2 linked regions of the Homo sapiens genome follow. The protein of the gene in region 1 binds, or shares a complex with, the protein of each later gene. Links are inferred from orthologs where the notes say so. Each region holds a gene or a part of one and is shown on either strand. Other genes may lie near its edges. The genes, in order: CLOCK and BMAL1.

What was found.
Region 2: the proteins of CLOCK (region 1) and BMAL1 are in contact, whole or in part, in a crystal structure (PDB 4F3L), measured with the Mus musculus proteins. The link is inferred for Homo sapiens from one-to-one orthologs. Residues at the interface, in NP_001276755.1 of Mus musculus: Arg46, Gln49, Phe50, Leu53, Ile54, Glu56, Leu57, Met60, Leu61, Pro62, Lys70, Ser71, Leu74, Gln75, Ser77, Ile78, Phe80, Leu81, Arg82, His84, Lys85, Thr88, Glu95, Ile96, Gln98, Asp99, Trp100, Pro102, Phe104, Leu105; in XP_030097882.1 of Mus musculus: Lys70, Met71, Phe74, Ile75, Glu77, Leu78, Ser80, Leu81, Val82, Asp93, Leu95, Leu98, Arg99, Ala101, Val102, His104, Met105, Lys106, Leu108, Arg109, Gly110, Ala118, Tyr120, Lys121, Pro122, Phe124, Leu125, Asp127, Asp128, Glu129.

What each region holds. Positions count from the first base shown.
Region 1 is NC_000004.12:55,542,172-55,554,406, forward strand, and holds the start of CLOCK (circadian locomoter output cycles protein kaput), read right to left. Parts: upstream 4,739-12,235; 5' UTR 4,611-4,738; intron 4,446-4,610; exon of another isoform or gene 3,282-4,445; intron 1-3,281. UniProt on the Homo sapiens protein: Transcriptional activator which forms a core component of the circadian clock.
Region 2 is NC_000011.10:13,270,679-13,283,121, forward strand, and holds the start of BMAL1 (basic helix-loop-helix ARNT-like protein 1), read left to right. Parts: upstream 1-7,111; 5' UTR 7,112-7,245; intron 7,246-12,443. UniProt on the Homo sapiens protein: Transcriptional activator which forms a core component of the circadian clock.

The sequences.
Region 1 (12,235 bases):
TGTCTACTAAAAATACAAAAATTAGCCGGGTGTGGTGGCAGATACCTGTAATCCCAGCTACTCTTGGAGGGCTAAGGCAGGAGAATCGCTTGAACCAAGGAGGCGGAGGTTGCAGTGAGCTGAGATCACGCCACTGCACTCCAGCCCGGGTGACAGAGAGAGACTCTGTCTCAAATAATAATAATAATAATAATAATAATAATAATAATATTATTATTATTATTATTATTAATGTCTATGCTGTTTTAACCATACTAGATTTCAAAACCACTGAAGGCAGGGTCAATTATACTGCATCTTTCTAGGTATCTCCCATAGTAAATAGTCTTGATCAATACTCTGAACTTTTTGCAAACTCCATCAGCTAAAAAGAATTAAGGTTTGGTAATTCTTTGTAACCTGGTTTAAAACAAACCCTCTGGAACTATTAGAGAACCAGAGGGATGGATGGAGGAGAGGGTAGTGCATATTAGTTGTTTGTTGTCAGTTAAGCAAAAGCCAAACCAAAGAGCCTCTTCTCTCCTTTTCCCTTCAAAAGCTAAATTTTATCCAAGTCAGTATCAGTGTCCCTTAGTTAAGGACAGTCTGCTTAGGTTCACTTCAGAGGAGCTCAAGAGGCTGGTGTAATCTACGAGGCTTTCGTAGGAGTCTGCAAGCAAGTACAGAAGGAAAAAAAATCAAAGTTTAACCCATACACTATCGATCAAGTCAAAAGCCAAAGAAAACCCTAAAACTTGGACTCTAAAGAGTCCTATAAAATTCATGGAATCCAAGCACCTTTTGGGTTTGTTTTGTTTAAAACAGGGTGTCACTCTGTCACCAAGGCTGAACTCCTGGGTTCAAGTGATCCCTCCACCTCAGCCTCCCAATTAGCTGAAACTACGGTGTGCACCACCCCATCTGGCTAATTTTTTTTAAAAAAATTTTGTAGCAAAGAGGTCTCACTATGTTGCCCAGGCTGGTCCTGAAATCCTGGGCTCAAGCCATTCTCCCACCTCGGCCGCTCGAAGTTTACAGTGAATTAAATCTATACCAGATAAAACTCACATCAGTATGACCTCCCTTCAAACTCTGCAAATGCCTCCATAACAATTGGCCCCTCACTAGTGAAAAGATGAGTATGACCTATGGTCTATATCAGATGTTAAGCTTTCTGACAGGCTCCAAGTCATGTCCCTGTCCTGTAGGTAATAACAGAGCCCATACTGGAGGCAAAATGGCAAAGCAGATGATCATTCAAGATGATTCCGTTTTCAAGGCTGAAAAGAACATATTTGCAAATGCACAGAAAAAGATCTACAAGATCATACAGTGGTGTTAACAGTGTTACCCTTCAGTCAAGGGTATACGAGTAGCTGTGCTCCCTAGATTCCTCTGGGGAGGAATGTGAGCTAGAAGTGGATGTAAAGGGGTTGTCACTTATTATATATACACTGTATTAACTTTTTATGAGCATCAATTTACTTCTGTAATTTTAAAAATAAGAGTCCCAGCTACTCGGGAGGCTGAGGCAGGAGAATCTCTTGAACCTGGGAGCCGGAGGTTGCAGTGAGCCAAGATCGTGCCACTGCACTCCGGCCTGGTGACAGAGCAAGACTCCGTCTCCAAAAAAAAAAAAAATTGAAATGTAATTCCATTTTTAAAAAAGATTGAACGGACCCACATGGAATTCAAATGAAAAATAAGTGACACTTTGCAGAAGTCTATTAGAAAAACCTACATATCAAACAGAAATAATATAAGTATCCTATCCTACAAAATAAAAAGGAATACTGGTAATATTACAAAAATGCCCACAGCAACTGCAATCCATTACTCACTATTCACTACTTTCATTACACAATATTAGTCACCAGGGGGAGTTTGAGGGTCCCCTCCCAAAATTATATCTCATCTAACAGCTGCCTGTGCAGTCTTAACCTCATTAAACAGGTTTTCAACAATCCAGTCCTAAAAAAATGTTCATTTTGTACACTTTCATGAGAAACAACCAGACACACACACACACACACACACACACACACACACCCCAATTTACCTTTCACTGGGGTTCATGTTTGATTTCCTCAAAAGAAAGAAAAGTTTCCCAACCTGAAAAGCAAACTAACCTAGACAATCAAGTTTACTAGCACTTTAAGGGAATGTTCACATCCTCCTCATAATTGTTTGTCATGAAACTTTGGGGTTAAGTAAAATTTTACCCATCTATGACTCCTGAAAAAAAGAGGAGGGGGAAACACAAACTACACTCTGAAAGCAGCATAATCCAGCCATAATGCCAAATGTAAACAGTCATATATTTTAGCAAGGCAAGATATAACTAAACATCTTTAAAAGATAAATGCCTGTGACCTCTGCAATCTTAAAAATTAAAGTGTAAATAGTCATAAAAGGTATCCCAAACTTCCTTTTTAGTTGATTTTCCTAAAAAATATGAAAAGCAATCATATTGAAAATGACTCAAATCACCATAAATTAGGCAACAAAAATCACACAAATTATTTGGGGGAGGAGGATTTTTGTTTAATCCAGTTTATGAGTCCATAATACACACAAAAATTTGAAAACATGAAGACATACACATAATACATCTCATTTCCCACCATTCCCTCAGACTATTTCTCCCTCTCCTCTATTGTTAGTTTTCTAAATCCTCCCATAATTTCTTTATATAAAGAGCAAACATAAACTTGTATTATTACACCTCGCCCTTAAGATGTAACACACTATTCACAAAGTACCGCTACACCTTGCTTTTTTCACTTCATAGCAAATTTTTGCAATCTTTGCATGTTAGTACGTAGAAAGCTTCCTTATTCTTTTTTCATAACTGATTACGCCTAGCTTTAGAACATTTTCAGTCTGCTTTCTTCAGGCTAACTTTTTTTTTTTTTACTTTTTTTATTATTATACTTTAAGTTCTAGGGTACATGTGCACAACGTGCAGGTTTGTCACATATGTATAAATGTGCCACGCTGGTGTGCTGCACCCATTAACTCGTCGTTTACATTAGGTATTTCTCCTAATGCTACAGGCTAACCTTTCAAGACATTCTGTTCAGCCAACCACTTATCACAGGAATTAATTTCCTTCCCCCAAGCTTTGAAAACCAATCAGATTTGAGGTGTCCCAAGGGATAAGTTTCAGAGAAAGCAATTCATTATCTAAATTACATCCTTTTAAGAATGTTTATTTTCAAACAGGTAGAGGGGAATATTGCACAATTTTCTCTAATCGCTTAAAGCTACAAATCAGAACGCAATCTTCAAAGTGAAATTACCTTTGATTTGGGGGGATCAGCGTTATAGTCAAATCAACGACTGTAAAAGTTTACTTCTTGTGCTTTTCTTCCACTGTAAAAATTTTTTTATTTTTTAAAGAAGGCTAAAAAGCCTTAAAGTCTAATAGCACGGCATTCTAATAGCAGGAAACCACAATCTGATTTGATCTTTCATCTGCCAGGTCAGAGACTAGGCTTTTATCTTGCAGAATTAGGCTCACCTACCATCAACAAGAGGACCTCTACAAAGCTACAAACACTTTCAAAGAATATAAACTCTGCGGCGCTGCGTGTAGGAAATTACACTCCAGGGGCCAGAGCGCCAGAGCCAACTCCAGAAAACCCAGCTTCACTGGCGGAAAGAAATCTACAAACGCCAGCGGCGGTGACGGGGAACGGGAAGCGCGGGTGGACGGAAGAAGAGAAACCGAGCGCCTCGCCGCCAACCCTCGAACCCGCGCGCGGTCGCTGGAGTCAGACGCTAATAGCCGCGCGCTGCCTAGGAACGGAACCCCGGAACCACCACCACTAACGGAACCAGCCCGCGGCCGGCAACGGCGGCCGTTCGGACTGCGGACTGCGGCACGCGGGCCGGGCGCCGGGAGGGCGGGGGTTCCCCGGAGGAGCTGGCCGCCCCGGCGCCCCATTGGGCGCTGCTCCAAACGTGCCCGAGTGGTGACAGGAATAAAGTGGGTCACAAGGCCTAGCGGGTCCCCAGCGAAAGCTCTCTCGGCACCCGGTCCCCGTCTTTCCCCGCCTCCCAGCTGCTGGAATCGGCCGCAGCTCCGGGCGCCCTCAAGCCGCCCGGCCCCGCCGTGCACCCCACTCCCGCCCCTGCCCCGCAGGTAACCCCAGCTGCCCCAGAGGGCCTCTCAGGCAGGGCGGGCCTCGGCCCGAAGTCCCGGGAAAAGACACACTAGAACGACACGCCAAACTTGGGCTTCAGCTCCCGCCTTCCCCACCCTTGGCCGCCGCCCCCCGGCCCCACACACGCCGCCCCCCGCTCCCTCCCCTTCCCCGCGCCCTCACCGTGTGGCTTGCGGCGGCTCCGGCTTCTTCCCTCCCCCACCCAGGTCTCCCGCTGCGGTGACTCGGAACCACTACCCCGCCTGTGTCCAGGAGGCGCCGCGGCTCCCACCTCCAGCAGCACCTGGGGCTGTGAGTGGCGCCCCCCACCCACCCCCCCAAAAATTCGCCGCTCCTGTGGCCAGCTCCTCCTCCCCCTCCCTTCCCTTCCCCTCCTCCACCAGCCCAGGAGCGCGCATGCGCCGCCAAGGAAGCCAACCGGCACTCGGCAGGCCCTGGGCCCACCGGGCGGGCGCCTCTCACCGGGAGCGCTCGCGGCGGCGGCGGCCAGATTTCCTTCGCGCTCTCGCTCTCCGGGGTTTCCTTTTTTAAACCGGCAGCCGCAAGCCGAGTCCGTGATTGCGCCCCCTCCCGGCGCATGCGTCGTCAGCGACCCCGCGGGCTCAGACGGCCGGCGGAGGCTCTGCGCTCGCCCCTCCCCTCACTCTCCCTTTCCCCAGCGCGGCTCGGTGCGCATGCGACTTGCCCCGTTAGGCAGCACGGAGCCGCGCCAGGGGATCCCGGACGCCCGAAGAGACTCCCGCGCCCCTTGGGCCGAAATCTGGCTCTGCAGGCGCACCGTTCCCTGCCCCGGCCGGGAACGGCGCCGGTTACTAGAAAGCCGGGGAGGCGGGGCCTGGTCGGGTGGAGGGCGCGGCCGGCCGGCAGAGCGCTAGCCTTAGGTCCTGGAGGCTCTTTGGCTTTCCCCCCGTATGCCGGGGGCTAGGAGGAGGAAGAAGAGCTTCCTGCCGGATGAGGGATCCAGAGGCCAGAAAAGGAACCCGCTCTCCCTTCCAAAGCAAAACACTGCCGACGCCAGCTTAGATTTTTCGGGTGTTGGCAGGAGACTTTTTCCCCCAGTGGCATCATTCGTGTTTCCTCTCCTGGTGCTGGGAGAGAAGAGTTGCAAAGGCGCCTGGACCGCCAGTAACATCTTCTCCCATCTCCTGAGGGAGCGCGGCTTGGGTTGCTTCTTCTTGGTGGGTGGGCCTGGGGAGACAGGGCATGCGCCCTCGGCCAGAGGAGGGAAGCGAAAGGAGGTCGGGATTTATTTGCTCATTTGGAGATTTTTCCCTTGCCCTTTTATTAAAAATCAAGTGACAGTGTAATGGAAGATGGAGAATGAAGCATCAGAAATAAACCAGGACCCTAATTTGCATGGATTTCCTCGTTGGAACAACGTGTGACTACTACTTATCTTCGGGAAATTACTTATCTTGATGCGTTAAGGCACATTTGGTCCACATGAGAAAGCACATTTCAGTGCTTCTACTGGAAAAGAGATCTTTACAGTCTTAATTCCTAGTAATTCCTATGTTTTAATGAATATCTTTTGGATTTGAAATAAAAGCCATCTTTTTCTTTCAAAAAATGCACTTTTCTGGCCGTAAAATCCTCCCTTTAAAGTAACAGTCACCTCAGTAAACATTTTCAATTCTTGCTGTATGCTCTGGGCAAAAGAACATCAAACTGAAGCACTTATTCAGATCCTTGATCCTGCACCTAAGGATTTTTCTTTCAGGAGTGGGAAAACATGATTTGTTAATTTACCCCATCATATAGCAGAAGATATTTTGGTCGACATTTTTGCCTGTTCAGCATTCATTCCCTATTCTGATAATTTCTTTTGAAGAACTATCATTTATCCACTCTCAGTCCATATGGTCTGAGCAGGACACAAGGGGAAGGCATATTTGAGTTTAATCCTCGGTTGCAAACTACGGTTCCTAAGAAGGGTGTTACGTCTTTACCAATGGGTTTAAATCTGGGAGAATGGAGACCTGGAGCCATCTTTCCACACGTGAATTCTGAGAAAGAAGGCAACACGGAAAAAAAGCAGATTTGAAGACAGGTTTGGCCTAAAGACATGTTTGAGGCCTGGAAACAAATGTAGATTAGATTCCTCTGGAAATTTCGTTAAACCAGTCAGTAAATTCTTGCATCTGTTTTATTGCTTAAACCAGTGAGAGGTTTTCTTTCACATGTAATCAAGAGTCCCGACTGACAAGAGGTAGGTAGCAAGACGGAGGCAAAGTTATTAATACTGATAAGGTAGGTTGCAGCCAGACAAGAGAGGGCTTGAATGCTTTCCCTAGGATGGATTTTTGAATTTTATTCTAGAGACACTGATCCCTCCTTATATTCCCCATCATCTAGAACATATTATCTTCAAAATACCTTTGCCCTTTTTAATGATTTCATTGTCCTCTCAGTCACCAAGATCAAACCATGTCCATCTTTGACTCCTCCCTCTTTCACTGTATTTAATTATTTACCAAGACCTGTTGATAATCCCCCGTTTTTCTGCTCAGTCCTCTCTCACTGCTTGAACATTTCCCATGGTTCAGTTCACAGCTTCTCCTTTCTCCCACATTCTCTCCAAGAAAAGAAAAAATGTACTGGATATGTCTTTTTTTTGAGACAGATTTTTTGAGACAGAGTCTTGCTCTGTTGCCCAGCTGGAGTACAGTGGCATGATCTCAGCTCACTGAAACCTCTGCCTCCCGGGTTCAAGCAATTCTTGTGCCTCAGCCTTCCAAGTAGCTGTGATTACAGACTCCCACCACCACACCAGCTAATTTTTGTATTTTTAGTAGAGATGGGGTTCCACCATGTTGGCCAGGCTGGTCTTGAACTCCTGGCCTCAAGTGATCCACCCACCTCAGCCACCCAAAGTGCTGGGATTAACAGGCGCGAGCCACTGTACCCAGCCTGTATTGGATATTTCCAATAGCTTTTCCAACTTCCAGATCCCACATTTCCATAAAACAAAAATCCTGCCTCATAATTTCATAGCTCCTAAATTTATATTCCATAGCCTTAAACATAATTTCAGATATTCTGTTCACCCTTTCTTGTGAACCTTGCTATCATTTAAACTGAGTATTTCCAACTCCTCTGTCAACTGATTTCCCCCAGTTGGTAGGCAACGTATCATAGTGGTTAAGAGTACAAAATTAGGATCTTAACTGCCTGGATTTAAATCATAGCTTCACCACTAATATTCTGCATGACTTTAAGCAAGTTATTTCTCTGTTCTTTAATTTCGTCATCTTTAAAATGGGATAATTACAATCCTATCTCATAGCTTAACCGAGACAGTGTGTGTGTCTGTGTGTGTGTAATTTTATCTGGTACATAAGAAATCCCATAGAAATGTTGGCTATTCTTGTCAATGATGTTCCTTTTTGGGTAATTTTCATGTCTCTTTTGCTCTAATTCTTGCCCTAACTCCTATGTCCCATCAGTCACAAAGTCATATCTGTTCTTTCATAGTAACTCATCCATTCATTGACATTCCTAGTTTTACTACCATACTTTAAGGTGAATTGGAGAACAGGAAGCTTTAAGATATGCTTAATAGAGAATATAAGGTTAAGTATTTTTTTAAAGCTTGCATAGTTTATTCAGTTACTCATATTCTTTCTAATCCCTTTAAAATGGAACTACAAAACCCTGCCTCATAGTTGAGGTAGTATTATAGACTTTGTGGTCAAAACTCTTGGCTTAAATTCTGACTCATGCTGAGAGATAGTGAGCAAATCAAGTAATTCCTCTGAGCTTCAGGTACTTATCTGTAAAGTTACAAGACTAGGCATTTCAGAGAACTGTGATGATCAAAGGTAAATTAAACTGCTACATAAAGGCTAGGTGGTGACGATGGTGGTTGTAAATCTTTACAATTTCTTGTTGGAACCCTAAGAATAGTTGAAATGACTCACAGATTTTTAACTCCAGCCTTCACTTCTCCCTTGGGCTCTATACACACGTCTGTTTATCTACCTGATGTCTCTTCTTCTGTATCACAAATATCTTGGATGCTTCTTTCAATCTATTCTCCACAGAGCAGTCAAATTATTTTGAAAATATAAGTGAAGTCACATTATTTTCTTCTAAAACCCCTTTTGTCATTTCCCATTACATACAAATTCCTAATTATGGTCACAATAACCTGTTTGATCTGGCCCCTCCCTACCTCTCCAACCTCATGTCTTACCATTTTTTTCCTTTTCCTGTGACACTCCAACCCAGAAACTGCCTTTCATTTCTTTGCTAATTTATCTCTGCTCTCAGGCTTTCATGCATGCTGTGCCCTTGCCTGGACCCCTCCTACCTTTTCTCATGGCTGGCTCCTTCTCAACCATCACATCTCAAAGATCTAACTACCCTATTTAAGTAGGTCTCCCTCCAACACCCCACCTGCCCCCCCACCACCAATAATATCCAAAGTTATTCTCTTCTGTTGTGTCCAGTTTCCCCCATAATACTTAAGTTTAAATTATGTATATATTAGTTATATGTATATATGATATTTGTTTTCTTATTAACTATTTTCCCTACCACCACAAGATAAACTCCAGAAGGGCGAGAACCATGTGTTTTCTTTGCCACTATACGTGTAGCATCCATTTCAATACCTCAGGTGAGCTGGGTAGAGTGACACGTACATGTAGTTCCAGCTGAGCCGGGAGGATTGCTTGAGCCCAGGAGTTAAGGAACAGCCTGGGCAATGTAGCAAGACCCCATCACTAAAATAAATTAATTAAAATTTAAAAATAAAAACCAGGTTGGGTGTGGTACCTCAAGTCTGTAATCCCAGCACTTTGGGAGGCCAAGGCAGGCAGATCACTTGAGGTCAGGAGTTTGAGACCAGCCTGGCCAACATGGTGAAACCCTGTCTCTACTAAAAAATACAAAAAAATTCGCCAGGTGTGGTGGTGCATGTCTATAGTCTGAGGCTTAGGCAGGAAAATCACTTGAACCTGGGAGGCAGTATCTGCAGTGAGCCCAGTTCGTGCTGCTGCACTCCAGCCTGGGTGACAGAGCAAGAGTCAGTCGAGGCAGGATAATCACTTGAACCTGGGAGGCAGAGGCTGCAGTAAGCCCAGATCGTGCTGCTGCACTCCACCCTGGGTGACAGAGCAAGTCTGTCTCAAACAAACAAAACCACCAATGCCTGAGGTGAATGAATGATTTAATGAGTGAATGAAATGCCAGAAAGATGATTTTTAGAATCATCTTTGTCCCAAATTATGACTGTAGGCAGATTATTGTCAAGGGGTAGCCTTAGTAATGTGCATGAAAGTGTGTCCGGAATTTATTCCTTCCGGTGGGTTCCTGGTCTCACTGACTTCAAGAATGAAACCATGGACCCTTGCAGTGAGTGTTACAGCTCTTAAAGATGGTGTGTCTGGAGTTTGTTCCTTCAGATGTTCAGATGTGTCCAGAATTTCTTCCTTCCAGTGGGTTTGTGGTCTTGCTGACTTCAGGAGTGAAGCCGCAGACTTTTACAGTGAGTGTTACAGCTCTTAAAGGTGGTGTGTCCGCAGTTTGTTCCTCCTGGTGGGTTCATGGTCTCGCTCACTTCAGGAATGAAGCTGCAGACCCCCACAGTGAGTGTTACAGCTCATAAAGGTAGTGTGGACCCAAACAGTGAGCAGCAGCAAGAGTTATTGTTAAGAGTGAAAGAACAAACCTTCCGCAGTGTAGAAGGGGGGGCCGAGCAGGTTGCTGCTGCTGGATTGGGTGCCAGCTTTTATTCCCTTATTTGGCCCCGCCCACATCCTGCTGATTGGTCCATTTTACAGAGCACTGATTGGTCCATTTTACAGAATGCTGATTGGTCCATTTTACAGAGTGCTGATGGTGCGTTTACAATCCTTTAGACACAGAGTGCTTTAGACATAGAGTGCTGATTGGTGTGTTTACAATCCTTCTTAGCTAGACACAGAATGCTGATTGGTGCGTTTTTACAGAGTGCTGACTGGTGCATTTACAATCCTTTAGCTAGACACAGAGCGCTGATTAGTGCATTTACAATCCTTTAGCTAGACACAAAAATTCTCCAAGTCCCCACCCAACCCAGAAGCCCAGCTGGCTTCACCTCTCAAAAGTACAAAAGAGAAGCAAACTAAAATCAGTCAGTGAAATATGATGTGACTAATACCGTTCTAGTGATTGAATACTTGAGAACCAGCAAGAATATGTAACACTAATAGATACAGCTAATACTTGTAAAAAAGATGCTGACTGAAATCTAAAATAGGGTACAAGTGCATGAAGTACCTCAACTTCTAAACAGCTGCCAACATTTGGGGTCAGATACCCACTCCTTCACCCAAGGATAAAAGTTGGACAAAAAGGGATCTACCATAGCCAAAACCTCCAACTCTCTACCCTCAGACCACATAAGTTCAACACTTGGCAAGAGGAAAAACACCTGACAGAATCACTGAAGCCAGGTTCCTGGGGTGTACTATGGTTTTTCCTTTCCTTTTTATGCCTCACCCTATCCCAAGTGAACAAGACTCCAACAGAATCAGCTAGGTGACTATGAGGGAGGGAGAGTGGCATCTCATTCACTATCAAACTTGCTGATATTGCCTTGTACCTACATGAAACAGGAAAAGAGTTGGAGAAATAGCTGGCCAGGGAGTGGGCTGAAATAAAGCAATCTGCAACATCTACCATGTGGTATAGCAAGGATACCGAGGATGTGTAAGTTTCTCATGGGTCAATCGATGCTGCGTAGAAAATGCTGTCCAGGTTTGAACTATCTTGATCCTGAAGGGGGAAAGAAATTCTAGCAGCAAGAGGCTGGATTTACTTCTGGGAGAGGAAACTAAGAGAGTTAGCAGAGATAGAGCTAAGACTGCTCCATCGCCTGTGTTGATCGAGGGACTGTGCAGTTGGGAAGCTGTTTCAGAGTTTCTAGGAGAACTCAATGTGCCCCATTAAAGAGTGAACATTTGGATGCAGTATTCATTGTACAGTTAAGGAAAATTTATCCCTTTCATCCCTATTCTCTCTCCCAGTCCCCAACACTAGAGGGATAGGCCCTGAAAGTGTTACTGATAGAGGGTCTTGACTGCAAGGTGTCCAAGTTCTTTGCGTTTTGAACTAAGAATTGGACAAAACGCCCCGCAAAGAAAGAATAAAGCAACTAAAGAACGAAAGCAGGGATTTATTGAAAATGAAAGTACACTTCACAGTGTGGGAGCCGGCGTGAGTAGTGGCTCAGAATCTTCTCCGGTCCAAATACCCGCTAGAGGCTTCCCATTGGCCACTTCATTTCATGAAGTGGTGGCTTGCAATTGGTCTGAGTGGTTGCCAAAAGCAAGCAATCAGAGGCTAAGGTGAAGTTACAAAGTTGCAAACGAACTCTCAGCCAGCAAGCAGTGTGATTGGTTGCAGACAGCCAATTTCCCATCTGCCACGCACAGAAGGTGGGGGTTTGCAAAGTAGCCTCTGGTCCTTTTGTTACTTAGGCATGGCAAGTTAGGGTTTTCCTTTAAATCTGGCTCTAAGAAGTTGGAGTGAAACAGCCTTAGGTTCCCTGCCTCCAGACCTTATTCTCCTGCCTCAAAAGGAGAGGGAAAAACTGGTTAAAAACCCCACCTTTCATCTTCAGAGTTGCTTAAGTCACGAGTTCAGCCAGAGAATGTTTGCTTGGAACTGACACTGGAGTGTTCAACTAGACAGACTTAATAACCCACACTGTGGGATGGGTAAAAGAAGTTGCTCAGGTTGTCTTTAAAGGATTTGCTGTGTAGTGCTTCTCGAATTTTAATGTGCGTGTCACCTGGAGATCTCATTAAAATGAAAATTATGATTCAGTTAGTCTGGGATGGGGCCAGAGATTCTGCATTTCTAACAAGCTCCTTAGGAATGCTGCTGATTCTAGGACCACATTTACCACATTTTGACAAAAAAGGCACTATAGAGAAGGGAGATTCAATAGAGCACACTTGGCAAAAATAGACAAAAATATTAGGATAAAATATCAATTTTTATAGATCAAAAAATGACTGAATATTGGCAATTAAAAAAACTAACTTTGTACCCCATTGAATATTCATTCAGTAAAATGGGGAACAATATTACATATT
Region 2 (12,443 bases), on another chromosome or scaffold:
GCCAAAATGGCTCGATGTGCTGCACTCTGGAATCTCATTGATTGATTGATTGATTGATTCATTCATTCATTCATTCATTGAACTTTTATTGCACACCTACTACCTGCTGGATTCTATTCTAGATGTGAGAGATATGGCAGTACAAATAACCCTCCTCTCACAGACCTTACGGGGGAAAGCATACAATAAATAAATGAATAGACAACAAAATGTCAGATAGTGATATGTGTTGAAAAGAAAATTCAAGAAGGGTAAAATGTGAAATGCAGAGGCTGCTGTAATATTTCAGAAGGGATGGGAGGTTTTCTCTGATGAGGGGGTAATTGAAGCCAGTGCTTAAATCCTATGTGTATCTCTGGAAGGTGATGTCTTGCGTGTGTCCATGCAAGAAGTACAGCTCACTTTTGCATGTCTTTATCATTTTTTATTAATTTGTTCAGACAATATTTGTTCTCATGAATGTGCTACTGCTTTGATAGCTATGGGAGATATAGAAGTGAAATATGCAGGTGTGGCACCTGCCTCACAGAGTTTATGAGAAGACAAGAAATTACAAGTGTGACAGTGCTTTGAAAAAGGAAGTACAAGGTGCTGTTGTGGTAGATTTTTATAGCTGGGAGGTCAGGGAAGGTTTCCCTGAGGAAGTGACCTTTAAGCAGCGAAGCAAGTGTGAGCCAGATTCATGGGTCAAAGGCAATGGAAGTAAGGGAAATTTACAGGCAGAGGGGATCAGTGTGCAATCTTTCTTTTTCTTTCCTTTCTTTCTTTCTTTCTCTTTCTTTCTCCTTCCTTCTTTCTTTTCCTTCTTTTCTTTCTTTCTTTCTTTCTTTTTCTTTCTTTCTCTCTCTCTCTTCTTTCTTTCTTTCTCTCTCTTTCTTTTTTGGCTGTTGACTTTCACCTTTCTCACCTATCCAAATCTTCCAAGGTCTAAGAAGTAATATCACTTGATTATATTTTCTTGCCCTTCTCTGGTAAATGTGCAAATGTATGATTTTGCAGTAGATGAATAAAAGAAAATGTACATGCAGCACAGGAGTCAAAAACAACAATAATAAAAATACAACCCAAACTAATGGACTTTATTCATACTCAAGATTTAGATGGTTTTATTTACAGTAAGTTTTATTGTCAATCTTTTGTTAGCTGGAGTGCTATCAATTTATGACACAGATTTTGGCTCATAAATTTCCCAAAGACCACTTATCAAGCTATAGTCACTTGTGGTTTTGTATTTAACTCAAGTGCATATAATTTTCCATGTCTTTAAAATAAGTTTTATGGCAGAGAGAGAAGCAGCAGCAGGAGGAGATAACATTGAAACCTTATAAGAAAAAAATATGTAAGTTGTATTTCCTGTCTATACCAGCTGATTCTTTGAAACCCAGTGTGGTAATGAAGTAGAGTAGGAAAGCTGTGGGCCAGTCCCATTAGCCTACAGCTTCCAGAGGGCCCTGAGGTTTAAAAATCCCAAAGGATGTTCTTTTCAAAACTGTTTACAGATGAGCCTCAACTTACGATGGGGTTATGTCCCGAAAAACCCATGGCAAGTCAAAAATATTGAAAGTTGAAAATACATTTAATATCCCAATATGCCAATCATAAACTAGAAAAATCGTAACTCAAACCACTGTGAGCCCAGGGCCATCTGTATAATAAAGAAACATTAGGAACTATGTGAACGCTTTCAATGAGAGAGTTTTGCATGAGGTATAGTTTCTCCATACAATAAAAATGCTGCAGCCATTAGACAGCCAGTTGTAGAAGGAGGCTCAATAACAAGAGAGAATGCATGTGATAATTTTTTAAAAGCAAGATGACAAAACTTTGATGGGATAAAAATTACATCAAAAGAGCTGGGTGTGGTGGCATGCCTATAGTCTCAGCCACTTGGGAGGCTGAGGCATGAGAATTGCTCGAGTCTAGAAGTTCGAGTCCAGCCTGGGCAGCATAGCAAGACTCTGTCTCTGAAAAAGAAAAAAATTAGGTCAAAATAGGATATAGTTACAGAAAAAATACATTGATATTTTAATGTGGGTTATATCCGCTTAATGGAATTATAGATTATTTTTATTTTCTTCTTTATGTGTGTGCTTTCCAAATTTTTGATCACAAATGTAAATTGGTTTCATAATCTAAAAAAAAAGCAATAGATGTTCTTGTTCTTCCAAAGAGAAAGGAGAGATTTGAGTAGCAGTCATTCTTACAATGCACACACATCTGTATGCAGGATGAGAGTTTTCCTTAGGTAAATTCTGAGTCTGTAGCTTTTATATGAGTGGAGCAAAGGACCCAGAGCTCACTGCAGAGGATCTAAACAACCTTTGATGCTGGAGATCGTGCTTGGTGATTATAAACTTTTATTTTTAAAATACCAAACGAGAAAGAGAGGGCCAATGAAGTAAGACAATGTTACAAGGAGTAGCTCTTTATAAGGAGTAATTCTATCAATGACAGGTTAAATGACATCACTGCTTACATCTCACCACGCCAGCTGCTGACTTATTAACTGGAATGTGTATATGGTGCATTAATAATGTGGTGTGGGGCCTGCATGCTAGTTGTTCCTTTATTTCGTTTATATGGAGAGTGTGTGTGTGTGCATGTATGAAATCCACCTTTATTTTCATGGCCTCTGGATTTTGTGTTATGCTTAGATGGGCCTTTTAAGATTATAGAACTTCTACTCATATTTTTTTCTAGTGTTTTTATAGGTTTGACTACATGCACTTAAATTCTCTTTTCCTATGGTTTATGTTTTAATGTAAGTACAGGGTAGGGGGCAAATTTTATGTGTTTCCCTATGGCTAGCTAGTTGTTTCAATAGCATTTATTGAAAAATCCATCTTCTTCCCAATCCTTTAAAATTCACTTTATAACTCAATTTTCCTATACTTTGGGTCTATTTCTGGATGCTATGCCTTTTAATTCGTCTATTGGTCTGTTTCTATACCAATACCAGACTATTTTATTACTATAGTTTAATAGTACACTTTGATAATGTATGAGATCAAATTCCCCAGTCTATCCCTTCTTTCCTTTTTCAAAAGCATATTGTAAATTTTTTTGAGCTAATGCATTTCTGAAATGGCTTGCCTGAACACTTCACTTTGCTATACTAACTAGAATGGATTCTTCCTTTCTTTTATATTCTCCAGAAAGTGAACTCTAGTCTGCTCATCCCAGTGAAGCTGGGCAAAATTGATGCCAGTTTTTTGAAGACAGTGTCTATCTGTTCTTCAGAGCTTCTGTTGAGAAGCCATGTGGCCACTGGTGCTTTAGCTTCCTCTAGCCAAACGGAAAAGCCCCTTTCACATCTGAGCACCAAGATCTTTGGAATCTTGGCCATGTCTGCAAGCAAGATCTAGTCTAAAGCCTAATTACACAGTCTAGGACACATTCCAAATGAGGTATTACTGCTCTCCCATTCTGAGCTGCTATGGCCATCCCATTAAAAAAAGAGCCAAGGAAGGTCTTTTCAAAAGCAGCTGAAAAAGCTATAAACACTGGTTAACTCATTAATGCCTGATTTTTTTTTTAATTCCCATTTTTTGTACACCCAGATGTCAACCTTGGTTAACAGATCAAACCATTCACAAATGTCAAATCCCAAAGAAACGCAATCAGAATCTTCCAGAACAGGACTCTGAAGTCTGTATTTTTTAAAACTCCCCAGGTAATTCTAATGGATCCAATCATTGGATCAGAGTCAGGGAAACTACTGTAGATTATACTACTTTATCCTCACTAACTTCATCTGTAAAACAGGAGCAAGAAATATCTATTTCATAGAATTGTTAAGAGTGATACCTAATATGTATCACATCTTGACTGTATGCCAGGCACTGTGTTAAGGGCTTTCCATCTATCATCACATTGAACTCTTATAACAGCCCTATGAAGTAGACACTAGATTATCCCCCTTTTACAGATGAGGAAACTGAGGTACAAAGAGGTTAAGCAATTTGATAAAAGTCATCCAGCTAGCAAGTGTGGAGGGCAAGCATATCAACTGCTAGGGTTAACGTGAGGATTATATTAAATAATGTATTTAAAGCATCTGGTACACAGTAGGTGCAAATAAATGCTCTCTCTTATCTTCCTTTTATCCACATGATTCTACTCATGCCCAGTAAAATTTACATTGAGGACAATATTTTGACCTTAGCAGTGCCCTATGAATTGAAAGTTCAGTATCCTGGAAAGTAGAAAAGAAAAGGGAAGTTAGGTAGTAGTGGAAGGAGGTGTTTGGGATCTCCAACAGAGAGAACCACAAAGAAAGGTGTAATTACACAGGGAAAAACAGGTGCACATGAGGGAAGACAGTTGCTTGGCCACTGAGGGTAGGATAAGGCAGGGTGATAACCTTTAAAAGAGGAAAGCCAGGGTACAAGATGAGAATCTCAGAGGAAGGGAGTCCACAAAGACACCTATTTCAGCCCGCCTCCCACTGCATGGTAATCCAATTCTCACTTGGACATTTTTTGTGACAAGAAACTCAATTAATCAAGGCAGAGGATGCTCTAGCTGTTAGAAAATTGTTCATATTGATTCATTCTAGAGTTTCTACCCACAGGTTCTCCTTCAACCCCTTAAGGCCCTTAAGTATAAGTTTAATTTCTCTTCTATTTGACAGTTCTTCACATATATCAAGACAGTTACCTTGTACCCCTGGGGCAAAACCTTCTGCTTCCTTTAATATTTCCTCATATGACATAGTTTCTAGCCTCTTTACATCCTGGTCCCTCTACTTGTGCATGTAGATAATTTCTTTCTGCCAAGTCTTAATTGCAGACAATACTTCATGTGGGTACTGACCAACACTGGGCAGCACAATAACACCTATCTTGCTTTACATGTCAGACTTCCACTGATGCAGCCTAAGAGCGTTTATTTATTTTGGCAGCCACAATTCACTGTGGACTCAGATTATTTGTCACCTAAGACCCTTTATCTTGCTCCTGTAAGCATCTAAGACACCTCTGCCTCCGGCTGGCTTCACACAGGGTGGGACTCCACATTTACCCCTGTTAGAGTCAGCCCACTGCTCCAATATTGTATGTGGTTTGTGTAACAGCGTCTCTTCCCCTCCTGGCTTTGTGTCATCTGGACATGTGATGCGAATCTTCTGGATTTTCCTTCAGAACACTGATAAAAGTTCTGATGTCTGGACCTGGGAGAGAGGCTTCTGTCATTCTGAGGGTAACTGGTGTGGTATAGAGGCTTTGAAATAAAAAGAAAAAGTCTAGTTTGAATCACGGCTCTGCCACCTACTGTGTGACCTTTGGCCAGCTAGCTAAATTCTGAGTTTCAGTTTCCCCATCTGTAAAATGGGGCAATAAAAGCTTCCTCACAGTGTGGTTATAAAGATTAAGGGAGAACATGAGGGGAAAGTACTTAGCACAGTGTCTGGTACGTAGTAGGTGCTGCTGGAATGCTGACTCCCTGCAATCTTCTTTTCGGTCAACGTCGACTCATCAATCAGCATCTTTAGGTTATGGTTACTTAACCAGTTATTAGTCCAATTAATGATACTAGCATCCAGCCCATATTTCTTCATCTTGTCTATGATATCTTGTCAAGTGCTTCGCTTAAGTCCCACTTACCTAGAGTGATCTCCTCATGAAATGGGGGCAGAGACAAAGGAGCAATAAGATTCCACCTGCGTGTAAACTTCGGAAAAATAGCAAGCTACCGACGGAATTGCTTGACCTCGAAAACAGTCAGCATTCAGACCACAAGCACATATTGGGCACTCCGTGCCTGTCAATGAGCTGGGGATGGGCAATGGTGTTACAGAGATTAAAAAACGCAGTGTCTGTGTTCAAGGAACTTACCAGGCTAGAAGTCTAGAGTCACGGGGGCCAGTCTGGGTAACAGAATTAGGCCAATTTATTTAATTCCATTTGTTCATGTATCCAGCCAACAGATATTTATGGTGCACTTGTTGGGTGCCAGCCCCGCCCCCACCACTCCACCCTACCCCAGCAGGCGCTAAAGGAGAGCTGACATGATGGATAACGAAAAAGAAGACGCTGTCCTTCTATTCAGGGAGTTTAACATCTGGAAGAGCCGGGAGTTCTTTGTGCTAAAGGCCCTCTACAAAGTGCCTGAGATGCAAAAATAAGTCACTTTCTCTGTCCTCTCAGCAACCGAGTCGCATGTCGTTATCAAATTTTTATTTTCTGTAACTGTTTCCTTCCGTCTTGCTCCGTAGACAGCTTTTTGCAGCAGAGAGCGCTGCCGCGGGGCTGGTGTCTACTCTTCAGTAAGTGGTCAAAACCTGGCTACTGGAAGGAAATGCAATGGAATCGCTCCGCGCTCGAGTATTCTCTTTGGAACTACGGGAATGACAGCTCCAGTGGGACACTTGGAGGTCATGATGAACGCAAAGAACGTGAGAACACTTGCAGTCCTCGGGGTGGAAATGCCTTCTAGAAATACTAAGTATCCGTTCTCTCGTTGAGACTTTGGCAAACCAGGGATTTTAGGAAGGGTCTGGCACTCAACGTTCCTAAAATTGGTTTCCTAGATGGAGCCGGAGGGAGAGAGGGAGTCAGGAACTGCTGCTTTTCGTCGGAATGCCCGGAGGGGAGAAGAAGAAGGAGGAGGGGTGAGGGCGGGCGGCCAAACGCCAGCCGGCAGGGGACCCAGAGAAGAGGGACATCCCGGGCGACCCCGAGGAGCGCGGCTTGGGCACCGCAGTGGCCGCGGCTAGTGGGAGACCTGAGGGGAAAGGGAGAGGGCAGGGGCGAGGAACCCAGGGAGCGCGCGCGGATTGGTCCTCTCCTCGGGGCGTGCGCTCCTGTGCGCCAAATGATTGGTGGCAGGAAAGTAGCAGGTAAACCGGCTCCCGCCGCCTCGCCATTGGTCAGCGGCCTCTCTAGCCGCCACACAACTGGCCAGCGGGCTGCCGAGCCGCGCGCGGATTGGCTGGGGGCGGCCGCCGGGACCGGCTCCCTTCGGGCGTTCGGATTGGCTGGCGGGAAGAGGCAGGTATCCGGGCGCTGCGGCTCCTCCATTGGTGGGCGGGGAAGGGGGGTTGGGCACAGCGATTGGTGGGCGGGGGGCCGGGCCTGGGCCGGCGGGGAGCGGATTGGTCGGAAAGTAGGTTAGTGGTGCGACATTTAGGGAAGGCAGAAAGTAGGTCAGGGACGGAGGTGCCTGTTTACCCGCGCCGGACTCACCGCCGCCGCCGCCGCGGGATCCGAGTGCGGGCGCGGGCGCGGGCGCTCCCGGCGAGCCACGGTGAGTGTCAGGCCGGCGGCGGCCAGCGACGCGATCCCGCGCACCCCGTCGGGGGCCGTTAGCACCCTCGCGGGCGCTGCGCCCCTGCCGCCGCCCCGGGGGCAACCCGGCCGCCGAAGAACCCTGCCCGACGTGCCCGCTGCCGGCCTTAAAGGGCCCGTGACCGCTCCCTGCCCCCACCCGGGCCGTGGGGAGGCTGCGCCCCTTAAAGGCGCCGCGCCCGTCCGCCCCCATCCTCCTCGCGGGGGCTGCCGCTGCGGGCTAGGGCAGGCAGAGGTGCTGCAGGAGCCCTTAAAGGGGCCGGGAAAGTGTTCGCTGGAGTACCCACCGCCCTTCCGCGGGCATCGCTACCTGGCGGGGGGAGGGGGCAGCTAGCTGCCTCTTAAAGGGATAGCTCTGCCCTTGGGGGCAGTGACTCGGCCGAAGAGGACTCCTAGATGTGTCCCCGGGAGCTTCGGGGATCCCCGAGGGGACCATGCCTGGTGGCTGCCCCTCAAGGGCGTTGGGCGAACGGTGCCGCGTCTGCCCTTCCTCCCCGCTTCACTTCCCTTTCGGGAGCCCGCGAGGCTGGGTGGGGGCGGGGAGGGCGTCTCCGTCGGGCTTGGGGAGTCCAAGTCCGCCCGCCCCTTCGGCCCTGTAGCCAGGGCTGGCGCTGCACCCGGGAATCCCCGGCCGGCACGGGGCCGACCCCAGCCTGCGAACTTTCGTGGGGCCTGTGCCGTCCAGGTCCTGGGCGGCCCTCAAGGATGCCCCGTGGGTCTGCGGGCAGGTGCGCGTCGGCCTGGGGATGTCGCCCGGAGCCCGGGTGCGGGCCGGCCTTGGAGTCCCAGAGCTCCGCGGAGGGCGCAGCGAGCCTGGCTCCAGCTCCGGGTTTGACAGATGTCAGGGAAGAAAAGGTTCCCGCTCGGCTATTGCCGGGCGTTGACATCCCAGAGAGCTTCCCGTTTGCTTGGAAGAAGACGAGGAAGGTAGAGGTGAACGTCGACCTTGTGGGGCGCATGTTAGCCTCCCCGAGGGGTCGCGAGAGCCGGCAGCGGGGTGAGCTCAGGTGCCCGCCGGCAGGAGCTGGGGAGGGAAGGGGAGTGCTGGACACCGGCGCCTGCTGTCAAGTTCTCGCCGGCCGGTGAGAGACCCGCTGCCGCCGCGCACCCCGCACCTCCTGACCCCTCTCCCCTCTCCGCCTCGGCCCCTTCCCGGTCACCTAGCGTTGTTTTGGCGCTTTGGCGCTTGCGGTCTCTTCCTTCTTCCACCGCTACTCCTCAGCGAGGAATTATTAGCCAAGTTTTCTCACCCAGCTTCCAAAAATCAGATTCCGTATTTGTGAACAAGCTTTTCTTGACACTACCCGTATACCCGTATTTCCAGCATCGTCGTTTTATTAAACATCCATAAAAGCTGCCCCTTAGATGCATTCATTTCCCACGACACCTGCTTGCTTGTCATTTGTCCTTCTGACATCTGCTGTTGTTCACCCCTTTAATCTATTATTAAATGACAACTATTATTTTAATTCTTCTGGTCTCATTGATATCCGGATCTGTGAATTTGGGTTGGTGGAGTTTTTAATTAATGTACCCGTTGAATCATGAGCTTAAAATAATCATTGCTGCTCCTGAGCAGTTTTGAATAATATCATGCTCTCTCTGCTTGCAAGACTTAAAAAAATTCGCTGGTGTTATATTTGATTTCCATATCAATGGAATTCCCAAATATTTTTGAAAATACAAAATTCAGTCTTTCAGTCCATGTTTTGTTACTCAGATCATTTTACTGATAAGTCTTTAACGCAGCTTATAGAACATATTTAGAAGGTTTGGAAATTTCCTGGACAGGATTTGAAATTGCCTGTATCATCTGAAGCTGGTTCTGTAGAAGCATTTTGGTTTTGATTGTAGATGCAGCCAGTGAATGATAACAATAAGTTAAAACTGTAGTTAAATTTGTTCTTTATTCAACCCTCTGAAGAACGAACAGATCTGGTAGAAAAGCACTAACCTGGGAGTTAGGAGCTGGACATCCTGGTTCTAGTTTAGGCTTGGGCTCTCATGGCCGTTCCAGTCGGGGCAAGTTATTAAAGATTTCTAGGTTGTGTTTGCCTCTGATGGAAAGTAAGACGGTTGAACTAGGTGATCTCAAAGGTTCCTCTCTTTTGAAGTTCTGTAAGTCTCTAAATATTTAATACATTTGAATTCAGGTTGGTATTTACCTCCTGGCACCTCCAGAATATCTGAGCTGAAGCCCTATTTTCATAAGAAAGTTAAGCAGATCAACAGATGGTGTTTTGAAGAATCCATTTCAAATGATTTATAAAATGATGACTACTTACGAGTTTGTCTGCTATTTGCAGAAGAGGTTTGCATGCCACAGGGCAGGAAAAGGAAGTGGCCATGTTTTCAGATTTATCCCTTCACACCAACAATCTCTGTGGAATTTATATGCTAAAAGATGGAGAAGCACCATAGAAAGATTTGGCTGTATTAACAAAACTGCATATGAAAAGGTAAAAACTAGATAGTTAATATCTCTCTTTGGTGTAAGGGTTATAATGTATCTGAGCTTTCTTTGTGATTTCATCATCAACTCTCACTGTGGTAGGAAAATCAATATTAAATAAACAGTTTCAGCCCCGTGATTACATGCAGTGATTTTAGGAAGCATCATGATAACTAAAGTAGGTACTTGCAGGGAAGTAAAATATCCTTTCTAGACCTTGAGGTTTCGTTGGGAGCTAGGGACACAGGCATGTTATCCTTCTCCACAGTCTTTTTTCATTGTCACCTTATCACAAGACTCAGATTTATCCCAAATACCCACCTTGTCTTTTCTTCTCCCTCTCATGAAATAAGACCTGCTCTGACTCAACCCCCTCAGCATCTCTTACTTCCCACCCAAAATGTCCTGTCTCTATCCCCATCGTCCCCTCATCTCCTCCCAATTCAGAGAAAGCAAGTGGACCTCTCCTCTGTTCCTTTTCTTGGCCTCTCACCATGGGCAAGTGCCTGGGCTCTGGTGGCAGAAGAATCCATGGCTCAGGTTTGGGCTTTGTGGTCTTGGATGTGTGCTTGACTCCTCTGACCTCAGGTTTCTCCTCTTGGTGTAATGGCAGTGCCTGCCTCGTGGAGTCTGTGTGAGGATTAAGGGAGATGGTGCATGTAAAAGGCCTGGCACACAGGAAGCCTTTCCTTTGTGCCAGCTGCCATTCCTTCTCACCTCTACCCGGGTCCTATCACTAGAATATTATTTGTGCTGTTTGTCCTTAGTCTCCCCTGCCCCACCCTGAAAACCTTAGGCTTGACTTAGGAGAGGAAGGATGGAAGAGGCAGAGTCAGACTTGTGGTGAGCCTGCTGTGTACCAGGCAATTTACATGTGTCTTTACTTGGTACCCTGGGTTCGTAAGCCTCTCTTTCCTCCCTCCTGCCAGCCTCCCCCACTCTCCCATCTCCTGCTCCATTCTTAGTACCTGCCCTCTGGCTTCTCTCGCTACCACCTTTCTTTATATTTCTTCTCAAAGTTTTCTCCAAAACTTTGTCGTGAGTTCCTGGGGCCCATCTGCCCATCCTTATTCCTGAGTGGTTGTTCTTGGCCCCTTTGCAGTATTTCTTTTATTTTTTTAAACATGGTCTCAGTCTTGCCTGGTTGGAGTGCAGTGGTGCAATCGTGGCTCACTGCAGCCTCCCAAGTCTCAGGTAATCCTCCTGCCTCAGCCTCCAGAGTAGCTGAGCCTACAGACACGTGCCATCACACCTGGCTCATTTTTGTATTTTTATTAGAGATGGAGTTTTGCCATGTTGCCCAGGCTGGTCTCAAACTCCTGGGCTCAAGTGACCCACCTGCACTGGCCTCCCAAAGTGCTGGGATTACAGGCGTGAGTCACTGTGCTCAGCCCCTTTGAAGCTTTTACCTCACTTGTTTTTTGTCCTTTGAAATCCTTTCCTCTCTCAGCCTTTGGGTCATGCTGGTTTCTTGATTCTCTTCCTGCACCCCTGTAAAGATAAATGTCTGTCCTAGCTTCTGCTATTCACACTGTCCGTGGCCTGGGGTCCCCTCTCTAGCCCTGACCTGTCTCTCCTGTGTTCTGCTAGCAGGTCCGTTGTGGACATGAATGGCAGCCTGTAATCTGCATTTGTGGTCTCGGAGTTACAGGTTTGCAGACTGCTTGCAAGCACTGTCACATTGAGTCCTCATGACACACTGGAGCCTACATCCCTTCATTCCCCAGGCTGTCCTAAAAGGCAGTTTGGTTGGGTAGTTTAGCATACAGACTCTGGAGCCAGATTTCACATCCTAAGTATTCCCTACTGGCTTCGTGACTTGTGGTCAATTTTCTTTTGCTCTCTATGCCTTGGTGTCCTCATCTATAAAACTGGGATCATAGTAGCCCCTACATCAGAGAGTTGAGGTGTGGATTAAATGAGTTAAAGCATTGGAAAAAGTGTGCCAGTCTATTCATGGCACATTGCAAACACTCAGTGAATGTTGCTGTCAGTCTTGCTGCTCTTCGTTGCCTTGCCGGGGTGCCTTGGCCTGGTTTGTAGTGGTCTCCACATTCAGCCTGCCTGTCTGCCAGACCTTGCCATGTGCCTGGACACTGTAGTCAAGCTGAGGGGCTGTCCATTCCCTGTACCAGCCCTTGGCCCAGTCCATCCCTCAATTTTCACGTGTCCAAATCCTCCTCTGCTTTTAGGACCCAGGGCCTTGGTCCTGCAGCACTATTTCTTCATTTTGTTTTCCTTCCTCCCCACACCTGGCAGCAATGTCCACATTGATTTTTCTCCAATTCTCTTAGGTTCTGCTGCATTCCATATTGTGTTGGGCTGTCTCTGAAAATATCTCACCTGCTCGCTCAGCCTGAGCATTCTGGGAGAAGTTTATCTTGCTTTTTCCAAAATGACAGGCACAGGGAGCCTTTAGGCCATGGTTGTCCAATGCACATTGATCTTGTGGAGGAGGAGATGGGATGGGGTGGGCACTCAGGGACGGAGCAGGTGGAGGGAACAGGATGCACACTGCATAGAGGTGGGGGTGCAACAGGGCCATAAGTGGACATGGCCGTAAGTACTTAGGTCTGCATGGAAGGAGGGTTTGAATTGGGGACTTAACCTCAGGGGGAGATAAGATTGGATAAGGTTTAGTCATCTTTGCTGCAGGGGAACGTTGAGTACTGGCATGTAATGGAGAGTGGTTTTTACCTTAGTAT